Homo sapiens: one gene and its partners. The protein of the gene in region 2 interacts with the protein of the main gene of each other region in a pairwise test. Each region holds a gene or a part of one and is shown on either strand. Other genes may lie near its edges.

What was found.
Region 1: the proteins of LYSMD2 (region 2) and DUSP4 interact in binary tests that used the Homo sapiens proteins (3 or more experiments, as listed by UniProt).
Region 3: the proteins of LYSMD2 (region 2) and LCN9 interact in binary tests that used the Homo sapiens proteins (3 or more experiments, as listed by UniProt).

Annotation. Positions count from the first base shown.
Region 1 is NC_000008.11:29,346,790-29,356,973, reverse strand, and holds the start of DUSP4 (dual specificity protein phosphatase 4), read left to right. Parts: upstream 1-6,289; 5' UTR 6,290-6,695; coding exon 6,696-7,128; intron 7,129-8,168; exon of another isoform or gene 8,169-9,183; intron 9,184-10,184. UniProt on the Homo sapiens protein: Regulates mitogenic signal transduction by dephosphorylating both Thr and Tyr residues on MAP kinases ERK1 and ERK2.
Region 2 is NC_000015.10:51,733,698-51,743,376, forward strand, and holds the start of LYSMD2 (lysM and putative peptidoglycan-binding domain-containing protein 2), read right to left. Parts: upstream 3,959-9,679; 5' UTR 3,926-3,958; coding exon 3,653-3,925; intron 3,366-3,652; exon of another isoform or gene 3,243-3,365; intron 1-3,242.
Region 3 is NC_000009.12:135,657,581-135,668,090, forward strand, and holds LCN9 (epididymal-specific lipocalin-9 precursor), read left to right. Parts: upstream 1-5,728; 5' UTR 5,729-5,741; coding exon 5,742-5,837; intron 5,838-6,581; coding exon 6,582-6,718; intron 6,719-7,141; coding exon 7,142-7,215; intron 7,216-7,664; coding exon 7,665-7,775; intron 7,776-8,070; exon of another isoform or gene 8,071-8,107; coding exon 8,108-8,163; 3' UTR 8,164-8,172; intron 8,173-8,280; 3' UTR 8,281-9,381; downstream 9,382-10,510.

The DNA of each region.
Region 1 (10,184 bases), on a different chromosome or scaffold from region 2:
AGGGTTTCTGAAGGACTCCAGGGTTTCTAAAGCCACTGATTAGCTGCAGGAGACCTACTCACCACCCAATCAAGGCTTAAGCTGAAAGCTCTGACACCTTTCTTTGCGCGGTCCAGCACCTGGTCAGCCATGATGTGCTTACAAGGAGAATTAACTGACCATTAGACAGGGCAGAGAAGACTGTCCAGGACCTCTGCAGAATTAATGTGGAGACATCAGTGGATGACGATGGCCTGGGGCTCTGGTAGCAAACAGGTGTCATGACAAAGGTCTTCTATCACTTTGTCTCATTTATTATTTTGTCAGTGAAGACATAAGTCCCAGATTTTCTCTGATAGACTTGCTTTCAGGTTGTCTTATTGTTTTCAATAAAAGAAGATTTAGTAAACATATAAATAAATGTGTTTTTTATGCTTCCATCTTGGTAAGAATTTTTATATAAGTAATTTCACAAGTCCAAAAGACATCTTTTCTGACCATGTACTCCAACATTGATTTGGAAAATACATTCATTGTTGAAGCCTTGGAAAGGTGATTTAGACATTTTGTTGTCCTGAAAAAAGTAAATATAAAATGTAAACAATAATTACATTGTTTTTCCTTTGTTTTACAGATGGTAAAATCAAAGTACAGAACAACTGACTTGCTTAAGATGGCAATGAAAGAGTCGGGCCCTTACTTAGGTCAGCTACCATCTAGGTCGGTTGCTCATCCATGGCACAGATTTTCTACAGAGCTTTTGCATCATCTTAGCTCCCTTGTAGTTTCACACCAATTGCTCATCTATTTTTAGCAGGCAAACCCACTGGGGAAGAGAGATGCTAACAAATGAAAGGAAAAGAATACAAGGCACAAGGGCAGAATGAATGTCAGAGGTGAGATAACAGTTTAAAAAAAAAAAAAACCTACAAGAGAACTCAAGGACATTTCAAGGATAACATTTAAGTAGATGAAATGCACTTTATTCATGATGGCCTTTTCCTCCATTTCCCTAATCTCACAACACGGCTCCATCCCTTTCTCTTCTGAATCTTCCTGGCATGCTGTTTGTTCTCTAATGACACTTTGTTAGATCCTGCTTTCTGGCAATGTACAGTGGCAATCACACCCTGACTAGACCAATGAGACTGTCAGCTTTTTGAAGGCACAGTGTTTTGGACAAATCTGTCCCCCTACTTCCCGCACCTCTTGCTGAGTCTAGCACGTTTGTTGAATGAATAAGAGAATCTGCACAGCTAGAGTGACCCCAAATAACCTAGTTTTGTTTTGTATTGTTTTGTTTGTTTGTCTTTTGAGATGGAGTCTCGCTGTCTCGCCCTGTCCAGGCAGGAGTGCAGTGGCCCAATCTTGACTCACTGCAACCTCTGCCTCTCCGGGTCAAGGGATTCTTTTGCCTCAGCCTCACGAGTAGCTGGGACTACAGGCACCCACCATCATGCCTGACTAATTTTTGTATTTTTAATGTTGGTCAGGCTGGTCTCCAACTCCTGACCTCAAGTGATCCGCCAGCCTCCCAAAGTGCTGGGGGATTACAGGCATGAGCCACCATCCATGCCCAGCCTCCGAGTTCATTTTTATCCCGTTTGGAGAAGTGTTTCTTTCCAAAATTTGTTTCTGAAATTTTGAAGACGTTTTATCAAAATGCTTGGGACGTTAGCACGTGACTAAACAAATAAATAAAAACTATGAGCTCTGCTGTCCATGAGTTTATATTCTAAAGCAGGGACAAGGAGGAGCTAGAGATCGTCCTTTATCTTATGGCATTATAGTGTGCTTGGCTCTTCAGAGGGCGAGATGGGAAACCTATGAAACTTGGACTCGGAGCTGAGAAGTCTTCTTCTGCTCAGAATCATACAGGGTCGGAAATAGACCAGACCTGAGAAACCATCCTGCCCAAACTCTTCATTTTGCAGGTGAAGAAAGTGAGGCCAAAGGAGACTGTCTTGCCCAAGGCCACCAAGCTAGATGGTGGCATAGCCTAGATTGAATAGTTTTAAAATAAAGCAGTAAATAAAGCAATGCATTAAAACCTTTCTGCAGAGACCCTGGGTTAGAAACTTAATCTTTTATTATTTTTTATTTGTATTTATTTATTTATTTTGAGATGGAGTTTTGCTCTTGTCGCCCAGGCTGGAGTGCAGTGAGGGGATCTCAGCTCACTGCAACCTCTACCTCCCGGGTTCAAGCGATTCTCCTGCCTCAGCCTCCAGTGTAGCTGGGATTATGGGTGCGCGCCCGTCATGCTGGCTAATTTTGTATTTTTAGAAGAGACAGGGTTTCACCATGTTGACCAGGCTGGTCTTAAACTCCTGACCTCAGGTGATCTGCCCACTTCGGTCTTCCAAAGTGCTGGGATTACTAGCGTGAGCCACCTCGCCTGGCCGATACATAGCCTTTTAAATCATTAATAAGTGCTAGAGTATCAAGCATAGAAAACAAAAAAGATCTGTAACAAAGTCAGGACTTAAAAAAAGAAATCCTCAGGCTATGTCTTTGAGAGTTTTTGGTTAGGTTCAGTGTGAACTTTGAAGACTTTCCTTCGCTTTCAGTCCTGACTTGATGGGCAGAGGTACGTAGGGAAGGACAGGCATTTCTCAATTCCATTTCTAAACGTTGCCTAAGAACACGCTGTGTAGACCACAGGCTTCTCTGCTTTCAGGAGCAGGAGAGGGTCTCCCAGTTCTTTTGAGCCTTCCCACTACCAGGGGGCAAGTTCCCTAATTAGTTGATCTAAGAAGCCTAACCAACAAGATCTGTGCAAAATGGATTATTCCTGTTCCAGTTCGACGTAATAGCAAGGCTGCCTCTTTGCTCAAGAAAGGAAAAGCCACAGGACTTTTCTTTCCATCACCACCTTAATTAATTCATTAATGATTTTTCAGGCAAGTTTTATTCAGGCACTTTGGGACAGAGCAGTGAGTCAGAGGTTGGCATCAAAACTAGAATAGAAGCTGTACTTCTCTCTGGGGATTCTACTCCGGGCTTTAGATTCCCCGATCATACAACTTCCTAATTGGAAAGAAATGTTCCTAAACAAGAGCAGGTGTTTTGCTGGAGCCTGACAGTGACTAATAAGGTCGGTCTAAGGACTGACTGATGAAAGAGAAGCTGGATTTACTTGTCACAGCGAATTTTTAAAAGTTCTTTCACCCCGAGGTTTACTGCTGAATATAAATAAAAGACCTCTCCTTGGGCAATCCCATCCCAATTCCTACAAATATGCCTTAGTTAATTAAATTAACTTTGAAATGACATTCCGTGTCTTGCTCCAAATTGCCTTTGTTTTCTCCAAGATCTGCTCATTGACAAGCTGTTTCACAAGGTTCCTGTTTAAAATGGTTATGTTTCGTCCACAGACTGCAGACGAATTGGAGACAGGTTTTATCTATAGCCGGCATGGAGTAGCCCTCGCGTTGTACTCATTTAACTGTGGACCAATGGTTCACAAACATACAATTAAAAAATATATATCTAGGGTGTTTACACAGTATCCCGATAAATACAATATGGTAACTTAAATCTCCTTTGCTGAAATTCACACAACTGAAGGCCAATTCCTGAGTTGGCAATGGGGTGTGGATTTTAAAAATTAGTCTTTTTTAAAAATCAGGCCTTCGCTTTCGCAATTCAAGTGGCTCTCGGCTTAAACACATTAAGTCCCAAGCTGTGACTCCCTTCCAGTGAACAGCCGCGTAGGCGCGGGCACGCACACGTGGACACACACACTCACACGCGCCCTCCCACACCCCTTTCCGTGTGAATCGCCTGCGGGATTTAGGGCTTCTCCACCAGCGATTACTGTCAGGTGCAGAAAGCAAGCCTCTTTGTTCTATGGGCATTTTCCTCCCCCTGGATTTGACTGTTATTTACTGGCCACGTGAGCGCCAGGCGCGGGTCCGGCGGGGAAGGCGACCCCAGAACAGGGTAGACAAAAGCTGGCCCAGAGCGCGACCCGTGCGCCCCAGGGACGTCTCCCCAGCTCCTGCGACACGCGTGAAATTGGCCCGGACCTGCCTCCTGAGAGGCTTTTCCCAGAAATGTCTTGTTAAAGCCTTTGTAAAGGAATCAGTGTTTACTTGCGCCGGGAGAGCTCCGGCCCTGGGTCCTGGCAGGCGGCGGATTTCTGAGCTGCTGGAGAGCAACCCGGGAAAGCAAAATCAGCCTTGGACTGTCGGGGCCCCTGGGGCTCCTTGCTCCTTATCGAAAGCGAGTTATTAGATAGACCCCCACAGTCCCATTCAGCAGAATGGGAAACTGGACTCAGACACCTTTTGCCCTCCCCACAGGGAGGCCACGCCGTGCGGCTTTGACCACTGATCTCCCACCCGGAGTGCCCGACGCCCAGGGTCCTGCCACCGGGCAGCCTCGGTCAGTCCACAGTTGTGGCTCCTTCCAGGGCCTGGACTAGGGTGAGCACAAGCCTTGAGCGCAACATTTAAGAAGGGCGCCGAAAAGTCAGTAATCAAAAGAAATATCTTGATGCAATGCCTCTTTAAAAGAAAAAAAAATGCAAAAAATCCATGATGAATAAAATACTAAATTTTAAAAAGAGAAAGGATCCGTGCAGTGCCATCGTAAGCCATTTTGGAGCCCGGAGCAAAAGGAAATATCACCTTGCCCAAGCGGTGCCCCTACAGCTCATCCGAGTAGGGCCCGGGGGTCGAGGCATTCGGGGCCCAGTGGGGGACGAGGCCAGTCGAAGGTCTCGGAAGTGGAGGCTCCGCCGAGCTCCGGTCGGGGAGTGCAGGGATGGCCCCCGGGACCGGAGGTGAGAGCTCGGGAAAGCCGCTCCGCCCGGAACAAAGGCATGGGGAGAGGGTGAGCTTGGGCGGGAGAGACCCGGCGGGTACCGGTGCCCTCGCTGCCTGGGTCGGGCTTCCACGCGCGCCCCGGAATGGAATACGCTACTCTGCAGCCTCCGAAACTGCGAGCGAGTCCTGTAACTCCCTTGCTCTGTGATTAATTCTCACTAACAAGACTTGGCAAGATGTCGGGCGAATGATTTTTGGCTTCTGCACGGTCCCCACCGCGTGCGTGCACAAACCCCCAGCCAAAAGCCGCCTCTGGGAAATTAAATGCAAAAGAGAAATGGGGATGGGGAGGGCTGCTACGTGACCAGGAAAAAGGGATGCCCAGAAACATGAATCGGACCCAGAGCTGCTGAAGTCCTTTCAAAAGGTCATTCTTTGCGGGTACATTTTCCAGGGTCCAGCTCCGCAACAAATGTGGACCCTGTCATTTCCTGAAAGGATAATTCACAACTATGCAAGATAGGGTGAAGACGTTTCCCAAACCCGAAAACCTTGTTTTTCCCCCGACCAGGGTTAAATAAACATCTTTTAGGAAGCGTGGACAGGAGCGCAGCCTGCTCTCCTCCCTCGGAACACCATTCCGGCAATTAATGCCTCCCTTTGGGTAGTAAAGCAACAAACCCCACACCTCACTCCGATCCTGGGCTTCGGGCGGGAGGACTTTCTCTTTCATCTTCCAAGCAGGGGGTTGCCCACGTTCTTGGGGAAGCTATAAAACTGATTTAATGGCTTTAGATGAAAATCGATCACGCTAATGCATACGCTAACGTCTCAGGAATCGCATATTCAGAAAGGACTGGCCGGGCCGAAAGCGCACGGGGAGTCTGGGGCTAGGAGGTGTCAGGCCCCGCTGGGTGGGCAGCAGCGCTCCGGTCCCCTCTCCACTTGGGTAACCGGGAAAAACCTACGGGGCTGTCACGCGGGGAAGCGCGAAGGTGCCAAGGGATGAAAGCTCAAACCCGAGCCCTGGCCTCCTCAGCCGGCTATTTCCTTTGGCGCCGCCCGCCTAGCGGCGGGGTGCAGCGGCGGCACAGGTGCCGGTGTCGGGCTGGAGGCGCGGCGCAGGCTGGGCCCGCGGGTAGACGGCGAAAGGCGCCGCGCGCTCCATTCACAAAGTCCGGGCGCTGCCCGCCGCTGGCGGCGGGTCGGAGGCCGCCTCCCTCTTCCTCTCGGCCTCGGTTTTATGAATGGGCCTGATGGCGAGCACCCGGCGCCCTGTTTACTCCGCTCTTTGTGACGTCGAGTTCCCGTGACCGGGAGCCAGCGGCCGCGCTCCATTCAAGCTCCGGGGAGGGGGTGGGAGGAGGGGCCCGGAGGGGGCGGGGAGTCAGCGCGGGGGGCGGGGGACAGCGCGGGGGGCGGGGGACGGCGCGGGGCCCGGAATGGAACGGGGCGGGGCCTGGCGGGGTAGTACCTAGCGCCCCCTCCCCCGGGAGCGCGGAGGAGCATTAATAAACCTCTAAGCCGAGGAGAAAACTCTGGCTGGGGCAGTGCGCTGAGCGCCGGAGGAGCGTAGGCAGGGCAGCGCTGGCGCCAGTGGCGACAGGAGCCGCGCGACCGGCAAAAATACACGGGAGGCCGTCGCCGAAAAGAGTCCGCGGTCCTCTCTCGTAAACACACTCTCCTCCACCGGCGCCTCCCCCTCCGCTCTGCGCGCCGCCCGGCTGGGCGCCCGAGGCCGCTCCGACTGCTATGTGACCGCGAGGCTGCGGGAGGAAGGGGACAGGGAAGAAGAGGCTCTCCCGCGGGAGCCCTTGAGGACCAAGTTTGCGGCCACTTCTGCAGGCGTCCCTTCTTAGCTCTCGCCCGCCCCTTTCTGCAGCCTAGGCGGCCCGGGTTCTCTTCTCTTCCTCGCGCGCCCAGCCGCCTCGGTTCCCGGCGACCATGGTGACGATGGAGGAGCTGCGGGAGATGGACTGCAGTGTGCTCAAAAGGCTGATGAACCGGGACGAGAATGGCGGCGGCGCGGGCGGCAGCGGCAGCCACGGCACCCTGGGGCTGCCGAGCGGCGGCAAGTGCCTGCTGCTGGACTGCAGACCGTTCCTGGCGCACAGCGCGGGCTACATCCTAGGTTCGGTCAACGTGCGCTGTAACACCATCGTGCGGCGGCGGGCTAAGGGCTCCGTGAGCCTGGAGCAGATCCTGCCCGCCGAGGAGGAGGTACGCGCCCGCTTGCGCTCCGGCCTCTACTCGGCGGTCATCGTCTACGACGAGCGCAGCCCGCGCGCCGAGAGCCTCCGCGAGGACAGCACCGTGTCGCTGGTGGTGCAGGCGCTGCGCCGCAACGCCGAGCGCACCGACATCTGCCTGCTCAAAGGTAAACGAGGGCTCCGGGCGCTAGCTGGAGTCGGGGAGATGGAGGGGGTCTTGGCGGCCTGCGCCTTATTGGCACGGGAAGGAGTCCCCGGCGTGATTCGTGGTTGCGGGGATCCCCGCGCGCCCCTTTGTGTGTGTTGGTGTGTAGGGGTTTGCAAGGTTTCTGTGCAAGTGCGAGGTTCAAGTCCTCAGGGAAAGTGCGGACGGGTTTCTCCGGTCACCTGCAATTCCGCACCGTCCTAGCGAGGCCCCGTTTATTGACATTAACGGTCCTAGCCTCGAGGATGAAGCGACTCCTCTGCGCGGTCCATCTTGAGTCCCGGGAACAGTTTCCAAGTACCACGGGGCGCGTGGGGACAAGATAGGCCTGTTGGTTTGGCGTGCTGGGGCCCTACACTGAGCCGGACCGGGAGAATCCCAGAGGTGGAGAAAAGGTGAAGAGGGGTGGGCGCCGAGGTACAATTGGCCTTGCCAGTTTCACTGAAAACAAGACCCTGGCAAATGCAGAAAGGGAGATTGGGTTGCACACACTGTGTAGAGCGATCTGTATCTGCGTTCCCGCTGCCCAACTCCAAGCTCAGCTTGGAAGGTGGCCAATCCCCGTCCCGGGCTAGATCCAGGCTCTGGGAGCGGGAGGCTGAAGGACTGGGTATCTGGGGGACGCCGGGCGGAACCGGTCCTCTAGCGCCTGCAAATCCGGGCAGCGGAGAATGATCACCTTTTGTTCAGCCCGGATTTTCGACTATCTGATGGCGGCGCGTGCCGGATTTTAGCGAGCCCTGGCGAAACTCTCGGCGGCGAGACTGTCTTGTCACATTTGGTAGTCGGAAATCCTGGAAAAATCGCGTGCTGTCCGAGTCCCTGGAGGGACCTGGCGCCCGCCACACCTGCAGGGCAGGGTGGGTCCGCGGCCCTCGGGCTAGGGAGCGGGCAGGGCGCGTGGGGTCCGGGCGCCCCCCGCCGCGCTGCGCCTCCGCCTCCCGCCGCCGCATTCCGCGCATTCTTCCGCGCGGGTAGGGTCTGCGCTTCCGAGCCCGGTAGGCAGTTCAGACCCCCCCACACCCATCAAAGAGCCGCTCCTCCCCCCCGCAGGCGCCTTCGCCGCCTCCCTCCCTTCCTTTCCTTTCCGCTCCTCTTCCGACCTGTCCACCCGGGAGGAAGGGAGCTGGAAAGGGGGCGGAAACCTCTCCCCTCCAAAAAGCACAACAAAACTGTTCAGTGCGGAGGAGCCGGGTTCGCCCCTGCCGGACAGCGGGGGGCTTTGTTCCCCGCAGTTGTTTCCTGCCCATTTGACCTGTCAGCTGCTGGGGAAACGCTGCTGTTGACCTTTGGTTGAACTGCTAAGGCGATTTTGCTGATTTTTCTTTCTTTTTCCGCGAGGGCTGTCTTTTGCTCCTCCAAATGAGCCCAGTCCCCCTCCCTTCTCCCCAAAGCGCTCCAAGAGAAAGTGCCAGGAAGGGGCTTGTCCCGGAAGGCCTGGCGGCTGAGCGGGGCCAGGTCCTGGTTAGGCCACCAGGGTGGGCGTCCGCGCCATTGTTTGAGCTTGTCGGCGCTGGTGGGAGAGATGAGGGCAATTCCTCTGGGACGCAAGTCCCCTCGAATGGCCGGGGCTGGCCGGGATGTTCCCCGCACGGCGCTGCCCTCGAGTCCCCCCGATGGAGAGCGCGGGCGCGCCTTCCTTCGCTGGCGTCCAAACCCGGGACCAGCTAGAACACAGCAGGGCTGGGACTGGGTTCCAGCCCCACGTGGAGTCTGGATTTGTTTTGTTGTGTTTTGCTTTCCTTCCTGGAAGAAATCCCGAGGGGACCGCCCTAGAGCGGCAGCTCCAGGACCTCGGCCCTTGGGCTTCCGGGGGTGCAGCCACTTAGGCCCCGCTCCCGGGGAGAGAGGGATTATTTTTTAAGATTTATCCCCAGGGCGCGCGGCATTTCCCTGTCCCTCGTGAATCCCGTTGAGAGTCCTCCCTCCCCAACCTCCTCCATTTCCCCAGCCAGACCGATTCGAGAGCCCTGGAGATTCTGGGCGAGGCTAGTGACTGGGTAGTACAGGCCTCTAGGTAAAATGACAGCCCTCTGGTGGGTGGCGAGGTGCCTGGCCAACATAAGAGAAGTACTTTAAGGGCTGTTTCCTCCTGGAGCCTGCACTGCCTCTCGTAGTCGGCCCCGACGCGGGCAGGGAGAATCATCTTCTGCATCTCAAAGTGGACATCCTTGCAGATGGAGGTGTGCAGGCCTGGGCCACAGATTTAGCTTCGGTCTCTTCTAGAATAGCCCCTCCTAGCCAGAAGTTCAGCTTCTGCTTCCAAAGGGAGCCTGCCCTTGGAAGCAAGCACCTAAAATTGAGAGGTGGGGGAATCTTCCAGCCTGCTCTGTTGTGGTGAACATCGTTGAGGTTAACTGGGCCCTATTCGGTTTAGCTTAGCTGATTTTGACATATGTGTTCAGCAGAGGCCATCTTTAACCCAGTTCCTCTTCTTCCTCTTTGCCCTCTAATGGAAAGGCATCCCTAGAGAGGTCAGAAGGAAAAAGTCAGTATCTGCTCCCACAGCTCTGCGGGAAGGGGCTGGGGAAGGAAATCAAGGTGTCTCCCAGGTCTCCAGATACACCTCCCTTCCATGCCTGGAAGCCAGTGCAGTGGAGCAAATGTGGTTTCCCGGGAGGGGGCTCTGGGGCAGAGACCTAAAGGGGAATTTTGAGAAGCAAAGGAAGAAAAAGCCCCTTAGATTATCTTTAGTAAATGCCTGAATTGGTGAAGGGTTGGAGAATTTGTTTCCTACTGGAGTAATTCATTTTATTTTCCAGCGAGGGAATGTATGTATGTCTCATTTCAGGTGTGCCTGTGCGTGTCTGTAAAGCAGGACAGGAAGCCAGTGGAAGGCTTGATGGTTGGTGTCTGCCATTCTTGGAGGGGTTAGGAGAAGCAGTAAAAGCAACAAGAGTATTTTCAGAAGTGATAGTAGCATGTCCAGCCAAAGCTATCTAATTCTATTAATTGCATTTTAAAATTCAGTTTTTCTATTTCTGCCACGTTGAAGGGTTACTTCAACCACGTTGAACT
Region 2 (9,679 bases):
GAGATGACAGTAGAGCATTAAACCAAGTGTGAGGCCCTTCTAAGCATGGGGTCTTCTGTGACTGCGCAGGTCACATGCCCATGAAGCTAGCCCTGTATCCAGCTATTAGAGAAAGACAGATGGAACAGCAAGTGCAAGAACCCCAAGGAAGAACAGTGCTTTGGGAACAAGCAAAGCAGCCATGCTTGTTAAAAATGGAGACTCTGGCCAGATGCGGTGGCTCACGCTTGTAATCCCAACACTTTGGGAGGCCAAGGTGGGCAGATCATGAGGTCAGGAGTTGAACACCAGCCCGGCCAACATAGTGAAACCCTATCTCTACTAAAAATACAAAAATTAGCCGGGCATGGTGGCGTGTGCTTAAAGTCCCAGCTACTCGAGAGGCTGAGGCAGGAGAATAGCTTGAACCCGGGAGGCGGAGGTTGCAGTGAGCCAAGATCAGGCCACTGCACTCCAGCCAGGGTGACAAAGTGAGCCTTTGTCTCAAAAACAAAAACAAACAAACAAACAAAACAGAGACTCCTAGACTCCTTTTCTGGGTATTCCAATCCCATAGATCCAATGTCAGCTAGGATCCTTTATTTTTAGTTTGCCCCAGAGTATTCCTGTCCTGCCCAGGCCAATTTGAGGAACATGGATCTATTCTCACATCCTGAGATATGCCCTGCTGCCAGCCCTTCAGCACCACTTCAGAAAATGGCTCCCAGCTTGTTACCCTTGTAATCCAGGGCTGGCAACCAGGTCTCCATCTTCACCCCCTTGTCGGAGTCTCTGTTCTGGGAACTTCCTTGTACCTAGACTACGACTGGCTCTTAATCAGTCTTCCACCAAAGGACTGAAGTCCTGCCTGACACCCAGCTGGGTGGCTGAGGAGTTGCCATGGAGAGACAGGCTTTCCTGAGAGTTTCTGCTCATCTGTGCAAGATTGACAGACATGGTATGTTAAGGTCAACTGTTTGCTGAACTGACTTAATTTCTAGGTGCACTGCCTTGAGTCTCTAAGCCTCCAATATCTCATTTTCGACCTTTTAAAACAATCATTTAAATATGTTGTAGATGGTCTTGCCAGTCAACAACAGAAACCTAATTTGCTCAACTTCTTTCTGTTCAGTCAGAAGAAAAATATTTTTCTGCCTTTTTAGCTTCCACCTTAAAATCTCACAATGAGTAAACCTAATTAATATCTGCAGATATTAGACCAGTGCAGTGGCTCACACCTGTAGGCCCAGCACTTTGGGAGGCTGAGGTGGGTGGATTGCTTGAGCCCAGGAGTTCCAGACCAGCCTGGGCAACATAATGAGACCCCATTTCTACAAAAAATACAAAAATTAGCTGGGCATGTGGCTTGAGCCTGTAGTCCCAACTCCTCAGGAGGCCGAGGTGGGAAGATCACTTGAGCAGCGGCAGCTGAGGCTGCAGTGAGCCATGTTAGTGCCACTGCACTCCAGCCTGGGTAACAGAGTGAGACCCTGTCTCAAAAAAAAAAAAAATCTGAAGATATTAAAACAAGAATATCACTTCACTGTTATGGTAAGTATTATCACTTTCACTGATTCTATATTACCAGTGGAGGAGTCTCTAAAAATTTTATCAACTATAAGCCAGGGCCCAAAGTAATGAGAAATACATGTAATAAACCAGTGGTCCTCAACCAGGGGTAAATTTGCCTTCTAGAGAACATCCGGCAATGCCTGAATAGGGGTGGGAGAGTGCTACTGGCATCTAGTGGGTAGAGGCCAGAGATGCTGCTAAATATTCTACACTGCACAGGACAACCCCGTGCAACAAAGAGTTATCTGGTCTATAACATCAACAGTGCTGAGGTTGGGAAACCCTGTAATGAACTATGTGTCACTATCAATTATAGTTCCTGATTCATTATCCTTGTGTTTAATATCTTAAAATCAAAAGTCTTTATAAAAGCAACGAAAAATCTGATCTACACTTTAATTTTAAAAAGGGGTAATGAGGTTATGAGTAATAGGATCTATATTAGACATAACAGGGATTAGAAAGCATTTGATCAAAGGTGGAAAACTGCAGTAAACAGATGTATAAGAGTTATCTATAATCAACTCAAGTGAAACCACAGACGGCTGTGGGTCACAGAGAGATTGCACGGGAAGACAGCATGGGAAATAACACTCTTCTGCATGTCATAGATTTTTAGGTGCTGTCACTAGCCTAGTAAGGCAAGATGCCTGAAAACCAGATAGAAAAGACTGTCCTCCTTCAGTAGCCAGGATGCTGAGAGAGCTCCTGATAAGACTAAGATAAAAATAAGGATGGATATCAAAAGTAATATCTAGAGGAAAGCAAATGCTTTATCACTGTTAATTCAAGCTGGTCTCAATGAATGATCATACTTGGAAAATATCCTTACCTCTCATCCATCTTCTCATCTGTAAAAAGATTAATTACACCTACCTCCTGGGCTTATTGTGAAAGTTAAATAAGATAAAGATGAAACAAGACAAACGCAATGCCTGCCACACAGGAGGCATTCAGCAGAGGGTAGCTACTGGTATTTCCCAACTTCGCTTTCCTCTGCCTCTGACTCAAACCAGGCCCCATTAAGGCACATAGAGAATTGTAGCTCTATGTTCACATGTATAGAACTCCCAAGAGGGCAGAATGGGGCTCTCCATGGCATGATAGAGTCAATACATGACTGCACAGCAAGGTCCCTTTCAAAATATTTCAAAGATAGAAGGACCTGATAGGTAAACATATACCGGCTTAAATATGCAAAATACATTCTCCTTCATACTGATGCTCCTTCATTCGGTAAAGGGCCAGAAAGAGTTTCACTTTAAGGGAAAGATATAGATAAGATCCTCTTTCTTCCCATTGCTGTCTAAGGTGCTTCAGGAAAGAACACTGAAAACTGATACAGATCCCAAATGTAAAAAGGCCATCACATAGCTCACAGTTAATTATAAGTAATTTTAATGAAACAATTTGTTCCCTCAGGTTTCCATGTTCTTCCCAGAGGTGTAATGCTATACACCCAAGACACACACACTTATAAATTTGTAATAAACGCAGCCCTCCAGCTCACCACAGTTCTTGGCTGCTGCTTAGCGACAGGTGTCACATTCGCGGTTGCCAGTGAGCCCAGAGGGTGTAATTTCACTTCTACATAAAGAAGCATAATCGATAGAACCAGAACCACCCAGTAGGAACAACTGCACCATTCCTGACTCATCACGGAGCTTGTTTTCACAGACAACAAAATTCACCTCAGTTGGGCTTTGCGTAAATATAGAGTAGTGTGATGGGGCCTGCAAATTGGGTGAAGGTGGTTCACGGGGATGCCAAAGCCCTAGTCCTCTTCGGCCTCCCTCACGCGACAGATCTAGTCTGAGCCTGGGCGGGGCACCGGGAACTCGATGCAGCTACCTAGGGAGGGAGCCCTGGCGGTCCGCCCCTCCCGCTGCAGGACCAGCTTTGGCGACCACTGCGGTGGCCAGCAGCGCGCGCTGAGCGAGCCCTGGGAGCCGAGCCGCCCGGGGACGCACGGCCGTCCCTGCGACTCCCCATCCCCCAAACCCCCACCCGCAGTCCCACCCCCACCCCCACCGCACCCCGAGCCGCACCGCCTCCTGCGCGGTAGCTGCCAGCCCGGGCCGCGGCGGCGCGCCCTGCTCACCGTGACACCGTACTTGAGCGCGATGCCCTGCAGCGTGTCGCCCGCGCGGACCCGGTGCTCCACATGGCGCTCGATGACGCCGGCGCCCAGCGGCGCCCGCACGCTGGCGGTGCTGCCGTACGAGCGGGTCTTGGTGCGGGCCAGGCTCAGCGACAGCTCGGCCTCCTCGGACTCGGAGCCGGAGCGCGAGCGCGGCGGCGGCGAGGGGGCCGAGGGCCGCGGCGCGCGGGGGCCGCCTTCCCGCAGGGACAGTGCGGGCGAGGAATCCGCCATGGGTCCTGCCGAGGCCGCCGGGTCGGGGAGCTTGCCAAGGGGGCGGCGCCTCCTCCTCCTCCGCCGCCGCCGCCGCCTCTTCCTCTTCACAGGGGCTGCAGCAGGCCGTTCCGCGGGGGCGGCGGACGGGAAGCCGAGGCGGGGAGCCGCAGGCCGGGCATGGCGGGCGCCTCCTCCTCTGCGTCCTGCCTGCCCCGGGCGCCCGCGGCACACGCACCTGCAAGGTTAAGAGCGAAAGCAGCTCCCGCCGCGGCCTGCCGGTACCGGGAAGACCCTGCAGAGCGAGGGAGCCGGGGAGCGCTGAAGCCCGCGGCCGTTGGGGCTAAGAGAGGGCTATCTGCAGGCGTCCTAGGCCCCAGGTGGACCCCTGCTCCATTGGCGATAGAGCCCTGGCAGAACCCTGCCCTGGCCACGGCGAAAAAAAAAAAAAGCGTTGCTCTGCCTCCTTTATTGATTCCCCAGCAGGAGCCAGCTTGCACAGACCTTCCAGCTCTGCCAATGCCAAGGGTACTTCCCTCCCCCCACCCCAGTGACCTCAAAGTCCACGTCACAGTAAAACTTAAGATCATCAAACACACACAGACAGCTTCTCCAGGTCCATCTCAACAGCCTCAGAGTCCAGTCCTTTCAACATTGCACTAGGAGGGATAGTGCTTCTAAGGCCTAATGGGTGGCCTCAAAATAACCCCCCTAGTTGTTCGGGTTTCACACTTTGTACACTAGTGCCAATTTAAGTCCTGGCTGCCTCGAAAGGCTGGCCACATACAATTCATTCTCCAGGCTCAGTAGTTGGAATTTACTGTCTGCATTCATCTTCTCTTCGTCAGTTTATTCTTTGACACCCTGAAATCGCATCTCCCTGCCCCGTATTGCTATTAATATTATAACCACCAAAGACCTCTTATCTGTACTCTTCATTTGAACACCGTCTACTCTTGAACACCCTTTCAACACACTGTATTATACACAGAGTGGGTACACATTTACTAGCATCTAGTGCCTGGTTTCTGTGTTATTTTGGACAGCTTTCCAAGAAGAGGTACCTTGTAGGAAGGTCCGGAGCCTGGGGGTTTGATTCGTTGGCTGAAGTTTTGGTATGTTGCTGTGCTGGACAGAGGCAAAGCTAATATTGCTCAGGAGAGAAAGGATGGGAGAGGAGCAAGCTTCCACAACACCATCCCACTCAAAACTCCTACAATGGCTCTCTGGGGACAACAGCATTACTAAAAACCTACATTGGCATTCAAGCTATTATTTCTATTTTTATTATTCATGGTCTGACCATACCCCATCTATAACTCATTCTGTATACTCTACATATTCCTGCCAAACAGAGCCTCTGAAACTGGCCTCCTTGTTCCTACTTTCATACCTTGCATGTTATTCCCTCCAATGGTAACACTCTTCCAGTACCCTCTATTACATTGTTTAAATCTTTAAGGTCTGTCTCAAATGATACATCCTCCATGAGATTTTTCCTAATTCTTCCCAATGGTCCCTTTTTCCCACCTGCCCAACTGTTACTGTTTCTTCTTTGAACTCCAAGAGGTTTGTATTAATACCTCTGGTTTAGTATTTAACTCTCTGTGTTTTGTGTTTGTACTTGCATGTACATGCATGAGCTTGTCTTATCTCCTCCAACAAATACGTGCTCCTGGGAGGCATAACTGGGTCTTACTCATCTTTTTAGCTCCAGCAGTGCCTAGCTCAGTGGAATAAAAAAAAAAATAAATACATAATTACAAGTGGTTGAATTGAGGTGTAGTAAAAAGATCCTGAATGCTAATTTAGATTGTTTAGCATAAGTCTGCCATGCATAAACTTTTGGGTGGTATCCAGTGTGTCCATTTCAGGACCCAAGAGAGAGGCAGAATTTGAGTCTCAGTATATAGACAAGATCTGGTAATGTTTCAAGAAAGAAGTCTCTTCCTTCAAAGAGTTTACAATCTAGGAATGAGACAGCATATAATGTTTTCCACTAAGAAAAAGTTTACTGCATGGCTGGAAGTTTTAATCTGAAGATTAAAGAACTGAGCCAGGCGCAGTGGCCCATTCCAGCACTTTGGGAGTCTAAGGAAGGAGGATAGCTTGAGCCCAGGAGTTCAAGACCAGCCTGGGCAACATAGTGAGACCCATCTCTACAAAAAATACAAAACTTAATCGAGCATGTGGCCTACTCCTGTAGTTCCAGCTACTTGGGAAAGTGAGGTGGGAGGATTGCTTAAGCCCAGTAGGTGATCTCTGCAGTAAGCAGAGATCATGCCACTGCACTCCAGCCTCAGCAACACAGTGAGACCCTGGGGTTTTTTGTTTTGGTTTGGCTTTGGGGTTTTCTTTGTTTGTTTGTTTGTTTTGAGATAGAGTCTTGCTCTGTTGCCTAGGTTGGAGTGCAGTGGTGTGATCTCCGTTCACTGCAAGCTCCGCCTCCCAGGTTCAAGCAGTTTTCCTGCCTCAGCCTCCTGAGTAGCTGGGACTACAGCATGTGCCACTATGCCCGCCTAATTTTTTGTATTTTTAGTAGAGGTGGGGTTTCATCATGTTGGCCAGGCTTCTCTCAAACTTCTGACCTCAAGTGATCCATCAGCCTCAGCCTTCCAAAGTGCTGGGATTACAGGCCTGAGCCACCACGCCTGGCCAGGCCTGTTTTTTTGTTTTTTTGTTTTTAAAAAAAAGAACTGAGTTACATGAGGTGTTATTAGATGTTCATTGTTTTCCTTCTTAAACCAGAACTTCAAAATTGTTTTAATATGTATCTACCTACAACATAGAAGTTCATCACAATTAAAGATGAAACATTAAAAGCATTTCCTTTGAAGGGAATGGTAAGAAAAGGAAGCCTATTACTGCCTCTATTTAACATTGTTTTGAAGGTCTTTGCCAAGGCAATTTTAAAAAGAAGAAAAGGAAATGAAGATTGAAAAGAAATCAGCTGTTATTTACAGATAGTAGGCAATACTAAAATGTTTATAGGCAACACATAATGAATACATTGGAACTGTTCAAACAATTGAGAGTTCACCAAAGTTAAAAGATACAAGCTCAATATACAAACATCAATTGCATCACTCAATCATATAAGTGTGAAAAAGATGACATTCCACATACCACCAAAAATACCTAGGAATAAATTTAACAAGAGAAAATTGTTCCTGGTGGCGTAGGAGCAGAAAAAAAAATTTAAGGTAATAAATAAAAAGATAAAAAATAAAAGAAAGAAAGAAAAGTGTGTATTGTATGGAAAATATAAAACTTTTTTGAAGTACATAAAAGAAATATAAATAAAAGCAGAGATATACCATGTTTGTGAATGGGAAATGCAAAATAATGAAAATATCATTTTCTTTACAAACTAATGTTAAATTCATTAAAATTGCAAACAAAATCTCTATAGCATTCTTCAAAGGATATGACAGAGTTATGCTGACATTCATATGAAAGATAAAGCACTAACAAGGGCCAAGGCATTCCTGAGGAAGAATTAGGAAGGAGGCTTACCCTTATAGCCATGAAGACTTAAAACTATGAGAACTAAAGCAATGTGGGACTGGTACTGAGGCAGGAAAACATAACAAAGGGACAAGGAAGTAAGCCAGCAAACAGGTTCACATATATTGGATAACTTAATCTATAGCAGACGTAAAGTTACATATTCAATAAATGTTGCTGGAACAGTTAGTTTTCTGTGTGAGAAAAGATGAAATTAGATCCCTGTCTTATACTACACATCAAAATCAATTATAGATTGATTAAAGACATAATTGGGAAAAGCAAACATTAATGCTTTTGCAACAATATTTTTATAACCTTGGGATAGCAAAGGGTTTTTTAAACAAGATACCAAAATCATATAATTCACACATCACATAATTCATCCATTTAAAGTGTATAATTCAATGCTTTTCTGCATATTTATATTACATTACTAATTTCTTGAATTGTGACAAATGTACATAACATAAAATTCACCATTTTAACTATTTTTAAGCTTACAATTCAGTAACATTAAATATATTCACAGCCCGGGTGGTGGTTCTCGCCTGTTATTCCAGCACTTTGGAAGGCCAACGCAGGTGGATCGCTTAAGGCCAGGAGTTTAAGACCAGCCTGGCCAACATGGCGAAACCCCATTTCTACTAAAACTACAAAAATTAGCCTGGTGTGGTGGCAGGTGCCTGTAATCCCAGCCACTTGGGAGGCTGAGGCAGAAGAATCGCTTGAACCTGGGAGGCGGAGGTTACAGTGACCCGAGATAGCAACACTGCACTCCAGCCTGGGCAACAGAAGGAGACTCTATCTCACAAAAATAATAATTAAATATATATATAATGTATATATAAATAATATATATATATTCACAATGTTATGCAACTATCACCACTATCTATTTCCGAAAGTTTGTCATCACTCCAAAAAGAAATTTTTTTTTTTTTGAGACGGAGTCTCGCTCTGTCGCCCTGGCTGGAGTGCAATGGCACAATCTCCACTCACTGCAACCTCCACTTCCTGGGTTCAATCGATTTTCATGCCTCAGCCTCCCAAGTAGCTGCACCAAGATTACAGGCCTGCACCGCCATGCCCAGCTGATTTTTGTATTTTTAGTAGAGATGGGGTTTCGCCATGTTGGCCAGGCTGGTCTTGAACTCCTGACGTCAGGTGATCTACCCACCTCGGCCTCCCAAAGTGCTGGGATTCAAAAATAAATTTTTAACCATTGAGCAATAACCACATTCCAGCCTTCCTCAGTCCCTGATCACTTCTAATCTACTTTCGGTCATATTAATTTGACTCTTCTAGATAGTTCATAAGTGGAAGCATACAATATTTTTCCTTTTGTGTCTGGCTTATTTTACTTAACATAATGTTTTCAAGTTTCATCCATGTTGTAACATGTATCATGTTGAGTTTGGGGGAGCTCTTTGTATATTTTGAATGTAAGTCCTTTAGCAGATACATAGTTTTTAAATAATTGTTTCCCAGTCTGTGGCTTGCCTTTTAAATTTTTTAACAGGGTCTTTCTCAGAGCAGGAGTTTTTAACTTCAATAAAGGCCAACTTGCTGGGTGCAGTGGCTCATGCATGTAATACCAGCACTTTAAGAGGCTGAGGCAGGAGAATCCCTTGAGGTCAGGAGTTTGAGACCAGCCTGGCCAAAATAGTCATATTTTTTGGTCTCTAAAAAAAATAGAAAGACGTAGCCAGTTGTGGTGGCACATGCCTGTAGTCTCAACTACTCACAAGGCAGAGATGGGAAGATTACTTGAGACCAGGAGTTCGAGGCTGCAGTGAGCCATGATCGCCCCACTGCAGTCCAGCCGGGGGGACACAGTGAGACTCTGACTCAAAAATACATACATGCATACATACATACATATGTCTAACTTGAGGACTTCTATTTTGTCTTTCATGGATCATACTTTGGTGTTGTGTATAAAGGTACAACCTAGATATTCTATGTTATTTTCTGGAAGTTTTATAGTTTTGTGTTTTTGTGTTTTACATTTACTTCTGTGATCAATGGATTTCCCCCTCCTTTTTTTGAGATGGGGGTCTCACTATATTGCCCAGTCTGGTCTCAAATTCCTGGAGTCAAACCATCTTCCCACCTCAGTCTTTTGAGTAGCTGGGAGTACAAGCAAGCACCACTGCACCCAGTGGGCTGATTCATCTTGAGTTAATTTTTGTGAACAGTATAAGGTCTGTGTTTAGATTCATTGTTTTACATGTGGATGTCTAGTTATTTCAGCAACATTTGCTG
Region 3 (10,510 bases), on a different chromosome or scaffold from region 2:
GGATGTGCACGAGAGACTGGGTTTGGCACTTGGAGTCTTAATGCAAAGGTGAGGCGAAGCGTTACAACCCATAGCACATGTTTCAAAGCAGCTTGACGTGGTAGCCAAGGGCTGGCTGGGCCTTCCACCTTCGAGCAGTTGTTGCTGCTTGCCTGCTACTCGAGGGAGCTGAGACGCTGACCTTGGGGCGGCCTGTCACAATACATACGCCCCACCACATGTCAGTGTTATTGCAGCACAAAGGAGGTTACTGGCTGACAGCAGGCCAGTTGGGTAGCTATCAAGCCATCCTTTTAGACGACCCCGAAATAAAGCTGCAAACCACCAGAACTCTAAACCCTGCTCCACTATTCCCTGCCACCGAGGAGCTGGAGAAACTCTACATAACTGTCTAGAGGTCATAGACCAAGTGTTCTCCAGCCACCCGACCTAAAGGCTGTAGCCCTCCCGCGTACAGACTGACCTTGTTTGCAGGTGGGAGTAGCTTGGTCACCGACAGGAAGAGCAACACCATGTATGCCGTGGTGACCTCCTCAGAGGTAACAGAGGCAAGAACTTCGTCGGCAGGAACCTTGACACAGAAGGCAGAGTTAATCGCCCTTACAACTGTCCCAAGTTAAGAGCGCCAACATACACGCTAATTCCAAGTACGCATTCATGATAGTTCACGCCCACAGAGCTATCTGGAGGGAAGGAGGGTGGCTAAGAGCGGATAACACCAAAGTTAAAAATGCTAAGCAAGTGTTAGAATTGTTAGAGGTGGGCCGGGTGTGGTGGCTCACACCAGTAATCCCAGCACTCTGGGAGGCCAAGGCAGGTGGGTCACCTGAGGTCAGGAATTCGAGACCAGCCTGGCCAAAATGGTGAAACCCCGTCTCTACTAAAAATACAAAAATTACCCAGGCGCGGTGGCGCGTGCCTGTAATCCCAGCTACTTGGGAGGCTGAGAATCACAAAAGAATCGCTTGAACTGAGGAAGCTGAGGTTGCAGTGAGCCAAAATCGCGCCACTGCACTCCAGCCTGGGCGGCAGAGGGAGACTCCATCTCAAAAAAAAAAAAAAAAAAGTTAGAAGCGATAAAGGCCCCACAGGAAATAGCCATAATGCATTGCCCTGGCCATCGACGCAGTAATTCCGAAGTGGCAAGGGGTAATGTTTTCGCAGACTGCACCGCCGGGCATTCAGCCAGTGACAGCATCGAAATCCAGGCGCCCTTAATTTCCCAAATAGACTTCACGGCCCTCGAGCCCCGGTATGCTTCTGAAGATAAAAAGGCTGCAGAAGATAAAGGATTCAAACTAAAGGAGGAAGGGTGGAGGCTAGAGAGGAAACAGCGCAGGCATAGGCTGGGCGGCAGTGCATCTCGTCCACCCGCTGTTAAAGTACGTTCACGATAGCCTGCACTTTGAGAGAGTCGCTTCATTGGCCTTTGTACAAAATTATTTGAAAGGGAAAAGACTAAAGGCCCACGTAGAGAATATCATTCAACACTGTCATCTGTGCGCCCGGAATGAGCCTAATAATCATAGCCGAGGGCAGCCTGGGCAACAAGAAAGAGGCAGTCACTCACCAGAAAACCAGCAAATAGACTTCACACAGATGCCACCAGCCCCTGGGAATGCAAATACCCCCTAGTTCTAGTGGGCACCTTCTCTGACTGGGTGGAAGTGTGCCCATGTCACTCCGAATGAGCAACTGAAGTAAAGTTTTGCTCAAGGAAAGCATACCACGATACGGGCTCCCCGACGTAATCCAAAATGATAATGGGCCTTTGTGCACCTCTGAGATAACTCAACAAATGAACGAAGCATTGGAAATGAAGTGGACGCTGCAGTCAGTGTGGAGACCTCAATCTTCTGGACAAGCTAAGAGAATGAACCGCAGCCTAAAAACATTCATTGCCAAGTTGTGTCAAGAGGCTCCGTTGAAATGGACTCAGGTACTTAGCATTGCACTGCTCCCTGTAGGTGGGATTAAAATAAGTCCCTGCGAAACCGTCTTTGGGAGACCCTTTGCAGCCAATCTGTCTCGGGCCACCAAAGTGCCCCTAGGTAGGGAGTCGGCTATTCAGAATCATGTTGCTCACTTAGGACAAACTCTTAACGTTTTGCATAAGTTTGCTTCCAACACGGATGCGGTGAATTCCACAGACACCTGCCACCCACTCCTACCTGGCGATCAAGTGCTGCTGAGGGAATGGAAGGAAGCTGCCGCGATGGGAAAAATGGAAGGGCCCTACCACGTGCTCCTGACCATGGACGCAGCATTGAAGCTGGCAGGCATCAAGCCTTGGGTCCATCACACATGAGTGGAAAGATCCCTGCCGGCCAAGAGCCCTGCAGCACAGGAATCTCTGGCCACGGCTGGGAAGCAGAACCCCTAGAAGGCCTGAAGTTTCTATTCAGAAAACGCTAAGACTTTCTCTTCTAGCGCTCCGTCTTGCAATGCCTGCTCTTACCTCTCATCTTCTCTTACGCTGGGCACAGGACTAGGCAGATAACCTGCAGCCAGCCTCCTTCAGGGTCTGTGGCCTCTCACCCCTCTCTAGCACCTCAGGGTTGCCTTGGCGGGGGTCGCCCATCCAAGGGAAGGACTGGATTTACCTGCAAACCTTTTTGGGAAATCTAAAATCTTGGACTGGGTCACAAATGACAGGAGTAACCAGCGCAAATGTCTCAGAGTGGCCCATAAACAAAACTTTAGAAGGCCCAGGGCACAAAAGGCCATTCTCAGTAAACAAAACAAGGGATGATGCAACCGCTTTAGCTATGCCCTTGCTGAGTCCGAAGGTGGATGTCCAGGCTATTGTACCACAAAATGTCCAGTATAAAAACGGCTTTCTTCGAATTTGGAATGGATTTATTTGGCTAACTGCCTCCACCGGACATTTAAACCAAATAGCCCCCTTACGCTACAAACGACAGAACCCCTCCCTTGACCACCGACTTTAACATAAGTCGAATCATGAGACAGATTCCGCCCACCGCACATTGACCACTGGCCTAACAACTCGAATCGTGGGACGGATTCCGCCGCACATTGACCACCGGCCTAATGTAACTCAGGTTATGAGACGGATTCCGCCACACATTGATCACCGGCCTAACGTAACTCGGATCATGGGACAGATTCTGCCGCACATATTATAGTGCTACAACAAAGAGATTTGGGTTTTGTTTGTTTTTTTTTGAGACAGAGTCTCTGTCGCCCAGGCTGGAGTGTGGTGGCGCAATCTCGGCTCCCTGCAACCTCTGCCTCCCGGGCTCAAGCGATTCTCCTGCCTCAGCCTCCCATGTAGCTGAAATTACAGGTGCCCGCCACCACGCCTGGATAATTTTTATATTTCTTTTGTAGAGACGGGGTTTCACCATGTTGGCCAGGCTGGTCTCGAACTCGTGGCCTCAAGTGATCCTCCCGCCTCAGCCTCCCAAAGTGCTGGGATTCCAGGCGTGAGTCACTGCGCCCGGCCCTCAGTAAAGAGATTTGTTTGCCACCAACTGGTCCCAATGGCCTTGCCTACACTGGTATGCCCCTGACGGAAGCCAGTGGCTTTGTGGCACCATTTTATGGCCATGGCTGGCCTCGGGCACGTTGAGACACTGCACTCTAGGCCTCCTATGGGCACAGGGACCTTGGTAAAAACCATCCAAAATCCAGTCAATCTCCCACATATGCGTAACAGATGGACAAGGCCAGTCTTTCACAGGTACGGTCATCTGGCCGTAATATTTATGCCCTCAATGGGCTTAGAAATGGTCATATGGCACACAGAGGCACTCGCTAGTTTTACGCAGTGAGGCTTAAACGACAGTCTCCAAAGTGTTTCCCGTGTGAATGCTGAAACATACCATAGGTGGAAAGCTATCCTGCAAAATCAAATGGCCCTAGACATTCTAACAGCGGCCTAGCAGGGACCCTGCACCCTCATCAGAACCGAATATTGCATGTATGTACCTGACAATTCCGGGAATATTTCTCTGGCATTAAAAGCTATCATCCACCGGGCGCGGTGGCTCACGCCTGTAATCCCAGCACTTTGGGAGGCCGAGGCAGGCGGATCACGAGGTCAGCAGATAGAGACCATCCTGGCTAACACGGTGAAACCCCGTCTCTACTAAAAATACAAAAAATTAGCCGGGCATGGTGGCGGGCTCCTGTAGTCCCAGCTACTTGAGGGGCTGAGGCAGGAGAATGGCATGAACCCGGGAGGCGGAGCTTGCGGTGAGCCGAGATGGCACCACTGTACTCCAGCCTGGGCGACAGAGCAAGACTCAAAAAAAAAAAAAAAAAGGGCTATCGTCCACAGATGCAGGTCATCTCCAGCCCTAGGTTATCGGTTAATGACCGAACCACATCATGGCTTAGCAGAGGGTCTCCCTCGGGGCTGAACGTCCTCGCAGTCCAGGCCGTCCTTGCAGGCACCGGCATCATGTTACATTGTGGAATGTATTGCTGTTGCACATTGTTCCAAAACATCCCTCCAGCTCATACTATTTCAACAGGCGCTTTCTCTAGGCCCCCAAAACAGAGAGTACTACTGGGAACAAATCAACATCTTTCACTCCAACACTGCGTTTGGTGCCCCGTAACAATGACCTCCTATCAGCAGGAAGTAGCCAGAAAGATTATAATGCCCCATCCCCCCATGATTCTCATAAGAAATAAATATACAAGCATGATAGCAATCATGCATAATTTGACAGTGGGGATTGTGGCAGGCCAGGTCTCACTAACGGCTGAATAGGCCGGCCTCCACGACAACTGTTTCAGCACTGACCGGGTGGTGAAGTCAAATATTAAAAGCTGAGAGGGCCAGCGCCCTTCAACAGAGGCTGGAATGTAACAAAAGCCCACCAAGAGTTTTGCCCAGGCCTCTCCTGGGCCTTGAAGCATGACAAGATAACAAAGGAATTCTTAACAGGACCCGTTTAGGATTAAACAAGTTTTACTGGGGTCTAAAGGAACGCCCCAAACCTCCATGATTTAGCAGGAGAAAAGATAAGGGGAATCACCCCAGCACCTGGACCCCTCCAGATTAAGTAAATTTACTGAGGCTCCAGAGGAAGTTCTTCAGGACTCAGGCCTTAATTATAGATTAGAAGAAGTTCATCACTGTGTCTTTAGCTGAATGCACACTTACACGTAGACCTACAGCTTCGAAGATATATAAGCTCTGGAAAACTGCAATTTTGAGCTGGTCTAGTGCTATTTTCCCGGGCTTCTGCCTGTACCCGGTGACAGAAGCAAACTCTCTTATTTCCCAGCTCGTCTGCATCTCGTTACTGGGCTGAGAGAATAAGGAGCGAATAAGCGCCCGGCCGTCGGTTGAGTCTGGGGACGCTGTGACTCACCATTGGCTCCGGCCCCAGACGCTGTGCTGGGGAAGGAGCGGGAGGGGATGGGAGGGGAACAGGGACACCCTGTACTCCACAGACACAGCCACCATGGGTCCTCTTGCAGGCTGAGAGAGAGGCTGTCCCCTGCATTTGGGACAAGGTGCCTGCCTCCAGTGAGGGGACAGCAGGTTCCTTTGCCCATGGATCCAGGAAGCTCCCACAAGGGAGTGGGGTGATCTTCCCCAAGGTAGAGAGGGCAGCAGCCTCGGGGCCTTTGGCTGCATGCCCAGTGGGCACAGGATGTGTGTGGACGGGCCACAGAGTGGGCCGCCCTGCAGGGCTGGAAGCCGCAGGGCAGCAGGGTATAAAGGGGGTGGGCCGAGGGCTGAGGCGTCCACGGCAAAGATGGCTCTGCTTCTGCTGAGCCTGGGGCTGAGCCTCATCGCAGCCCAGGAGTTCGATCCCCACACCGTTATGCAGAGGAACTACAACGTGGCCAGGGTGTGTCTGCGTTGGGGTCTGTGGGGAAGGGGCCAGGCTTCAAGGCACCTGTCTTCCCCCAGCCTGGGGTCTCTGACCTGTGACCAGGGCAACTGGTCCAAGGGGAGCCCACCTCTCCTCCCCAAGCTGTGACAGCAGCCTGGGAGAGCAGGGGTTACTCCGGGAGGGTCGGGTGGGAGAGGCCTGGGAGAGTGACTGGGGCCCTGAGAGGTTAGAGGGGGCCCTGGGAGGGCAGAGGGGAAAGCTGGAGAGTGGAGTGGCGGCCAGCAGGGAGATGGGGGCCCTAAGAGGACAGAGGGGTTCCTAGAAGTATAGGGGAGACCTAGGGAAAAGAGGGGGACTCAGTGGGAAAGGGTGGAGCGGGGGACCTTGAGAGGACAGAGGGGGACCTGGAGGGGCAGAGGAGAGACCTGTGGGGCAGAGGGGGCCCTGGAAGGGCAGAGGGCATTCTGTGAGCAGAGGGGGGACCTTGGGATCAAAGGGGGGATCTGGGGACATAGGGGAGACCTGGGGGGCAGCGGGGGCCCTGGAAGGGCGGAGGGCATTCTGTGAGCAGAGGGGCGACCTTGGGGGTAAAGGGGGGATCTGGTGACGAGGGGAGACCTGGGGGCACTGGAAGGGCGGAGGGGTTCTGGTTGGGAGCCAGATGCTAAGGGGCCGGGCCCTGGGAGGGAAGACTGTGGGCGCTAAGCATCCCCAGGGCTGTCCCGCGGCCCCCCACCCACTGGAGCTCTTTGTCTTCAGGTTTCAGGGGTCTGGTATTCTATTTTCATGGCCTCAGATGACCTGAATCGGATTAAAGAAAATGGAGACCTGAGGGTCTTCGTCCGGAATATTGAACACTTGAAGAACGGCAGCCTAATATTTGATTTCGAATACATGTGCGTGTTGCCCATCTCAGCTGGCATCAGGAAGACCCATGCCCCTGCCACCCCAACGCATACTCTCACTCTTGCACACACACGCTCGCACACTCACTGACTTGCACTCTGGTGAGAGCCTGAGCCTGTGCGTGTGACCCTTGGGGGCAGGGTGAGGTGGGAGCAGGGACTTGGTCTGCCTGGCACTGTGCTCTTCCCTGAAACATAGAGATGAAATCGCCCCCTTCCAAGGCTGGGGTGAGGTTCGAGGAGATGAGGGTGTCCGGTGGGCTGCAGCAGGGCCCAGCCCAAGAACTTGGGGCTGTGGAATGAGGCCTGGGCATTGGGAGGGTGAGCCTGTGCCCTGGAGGAGGGGTGCTCTCTGCCATCGCACGTCCAGGGGGCTGGAGCTCCACTCCCGGCATCTTCCTGGCTGGCTTCCAGGGTGCAGGGGGAGTGTGTGGCTGTGGTCGTGGTCTGCGAGAAGACAGAGAAGAATGGGGAATACTCCATCAACTGTAAGTGGAAGCCAGGCTCCTCCTGGTCTCACAGTCGGGGGTCTCCTTTCTCCAGGGCCTGGGCCATATTCTGGTGAGCACTGACTCTGGGGATTTTAGTTAAGCCCCTGACAGCTTGACCCTGAACTGGAGGGACCCATCCTGGCACCTACCCAGGGGGGCTCCTGGCCCAGGGGAAGCAGGGAGGCAGGTGTGTCATGCTGAGCTCTGGGGGGTGAGCCCACTGAGGGGCCACCAGGGTCTGCAAGCCAATGACAAGGAGGGAGGGGGCTGTGCCGCTGCTGCCCGCCCCCTGTGCAGGGGTCTCCGCTGGGTGAGCACCGTGGGCTCCTCCCCTCCCGCCTCAAAAGGCCACTTGACCCCCCATCCTCACTTGCGGCCACACAGCACGTGTCACAGGACCCTGAGGGTGGCGGGGCCAGGCCACGCTGAGCCATGTCTCCACGCAGATGAGGGCCAGAACACAGTGGCCGTCTCGGAGACTGACTACAGGCTGTTCATCACCTTCCACCTCCAGAACTTCAGGAACGGGACCGAGACCCACACGCTGGCGCTCTATGGTACCTCCGCTGTCCCCCTCTGACCCCCTCGGGGACCCCACCTCCTCTGAAGTCCGGCCCAACCCTGGGCGGAGGAGGGTCTCGCAGTGGCCCTGGGGTTTGGAGAGGTGGTTCCCGTTGGCTATTCCTTCCCACAGACACACCGTTAGGGTGCTGGGTGCTTCAATCTGTCACCTCCCATCTCACTTGGCACAAAGCCCCTCTCTGGTCAGGGCGTGACCCCCTGCCCAGCCTCAGCACTTCCTGAGCACCCCCAGCAAGGCCCAGCTTCACACAGAACCAACTCTGTTCCCAGCACGGGTCCCATAGCTGGAACCCTCCTTCCTGAGCAGATTTGAAGAAACCTGCGAAAAGTACGGACTTGGCTCACAAAATATCATCGACTTGACCAACAAAGGTCAGCCCCACTGCTCCCGGACCAAGCGGGAGCCGGGACAGGGTGGGGATGGGAGGTGTGCCTGCGGGGTCCCTGTCCCTGCGCTGAGAGCCCCCTCTGTCCTTCCAGATCCCTGCTACTCCAAGCATTACAGGAGCCCGCCCAGGCCTCCCATGCGTGAGCTGCGACTCGGGACGGGCAGGGGGCTGGATGGGGAGAGCTTGGGGCCAACGTCAGAGGCTGCGGGGTCCCACCCCAGGAGGTGCCCATCCCTCCCCCTGGTCTGGGAACCGAACACAAGGTGCTTTGGTGAAAGATGCTGTGAAAAGCATCCTGGAGTCGGGGCAGTGATGGGGCCTTCCAGGGTGGTAAGGTCTGAGCAGGAAGTGAGATGGGGCCCTGTGTGAGTCTCCAGGGGCTGATGTCACCATATGCGGGTGACTAGGACAACCAGGATTTACTTTCTCACAGCCTGGAGCCCGAGGTCTGAAACCCGAGGTCCGCAGGGCTGTGCTCCCTCCACCAGCTCCCGGGAAGGGTCCTTCCTGCCTCTTCCGGCTGCTGGGGGCTCCAGGCATCCCTGGCTTGTGGCTGTCACTCCAGCCTCTGCCTCTGTCTGTGTCTCCTCTTCTGTCTCTTCTAAGGACACTTGTCATTGGATTTCGGGCCCATCTTCATGCAGAATGATCTCCCGTCAAGACCTCAACTTCACACCTGCAAAGACCCTTTCCCATCAGATGCCCTTCACAGGCTCCAGGCACTAGGAAAGGAGCATGTCCTTTGAGGGACACCACTCAGGTCACCACAGGCTCCTTCTCCGAGCTGCCCCTCCCTTCTCAGACATGGTCCCAGCCCAGTAAAAACCCCCAGGGCCCCCTTCCCTTCCCAGAGCCTGAGCCTCCCAGAGATACGCCTCTGAAGGCACCTCTGCATTTCTGCACGAGGGTTCCTGAGGGTAAAGGAGTGGATGTACCTGTGGTGCGTGGTGGCCCCAAGATGCGGGTGAGATGAGATGGCAACCGGCAACCAAGGCCCTACCCCTCCCCTCTCCGCCCCTCCCCTCGCTGACCTTCCCCTCCCTGTCCCTCCCCTCTCTGCCCCTCCCCTCCTGTCCCCTCCCTGGGCTCAGCCACTGCCTTTGGGGGAAGATGATCAACAATGTCACAGCTGAGGCAGGTGCCTGCGCCCCCGCCTCCATGTTTTGGTGAATAAAAGGGAGGTACCAGCCAATCTGCGGTGACTTTGTGGGTTAAAAGTGATTGTTGGTTGGGCCTCTGTCAGAGATGTGAAAACGACTGCATTTGTATGATGCTCTCGAAATCACAAAACCGCAGAGGGGGACATGAGTCGGTGATTTCCAGAGGTTACAAATGGAAGGTAGGAAGTCAGCCAGAAAGGGGCACCAGGAGGGGCCCTGGTGACGATGGAACGTCCTGCACTGTGACCCTGGCGGTGGACATGACCCTGCACGTGCAGCAAAAATGCGGCTCTGTCTGAGGAGCCGCTGGCCCTGCCCCCTGCCCGGGGGAGAACATTTTGCAGCCCGAGACCCAGAAGCGTCTGTGCTGGGGGTGTGCGCTGGGCGGCCCCAACTCTGGCGTCTGCGTGAGCTCTCCAAGGGGTCATCCTGTGGGTCACAGTCCCGGGTGCTCAGGAAGAACCTGTCCCCAGAGCCAGTGCCTGCTTGTAAAGGAGCTAAGTGGAGCTGTCTTAGGATGAGGGTCTGGATGCCACCCCCCACCCCACCTCCATTGGGAGCTCCAGGCTATAGGGTGAGGCTGGGTAGAGTTTTAGTGCCCGCTGTATGGGTGCCAGGCTTGGGGAAGGAGCAGCTCCATTGGGATGGGAGGGAGTGGGAGGCACCTGGCATTCCCATGGCTGCCCAGCTTCCGGCCCCTTGTTTGGATCTGGGCCCAGCCTACTGAGCTGCAGCGGGAACGCGAGAAGCTGCCCACTCGGCGGGGCCCGTTGGTGCACAAAGCTGGCCTCGGAGGAGCAGAGCCAAGGCTGCCAGAAAGGGGTGCTGGGAGGCCACTGCCCATTGGTGCAGGGGGAGCCTCTGGGCCCCAGAGGAGGCCTGGGCATGGGGGTAGATGTGGACATAGGCAGAAGCCTTTAGCCCCACCCCAGAAGACAGCACAAAGGGGAGCTGAACCAGAGCTGAGTGTCCCCAGCACCCACCCCACCATCAGCTGCTCAGCACCAGGCTGGCCCTGGCCTCAGACTCCTGCAGCCTCAACACCAGGGGCCTCAGGTGGACAAAGGAACAGGGCAGTGGGCAGGGCATGAAAGAACAACCAAGAGACCACCCTCGTTGTTTCCATTTGGGGTGGCACTCAGTCAAATAAAAATCTAGTGA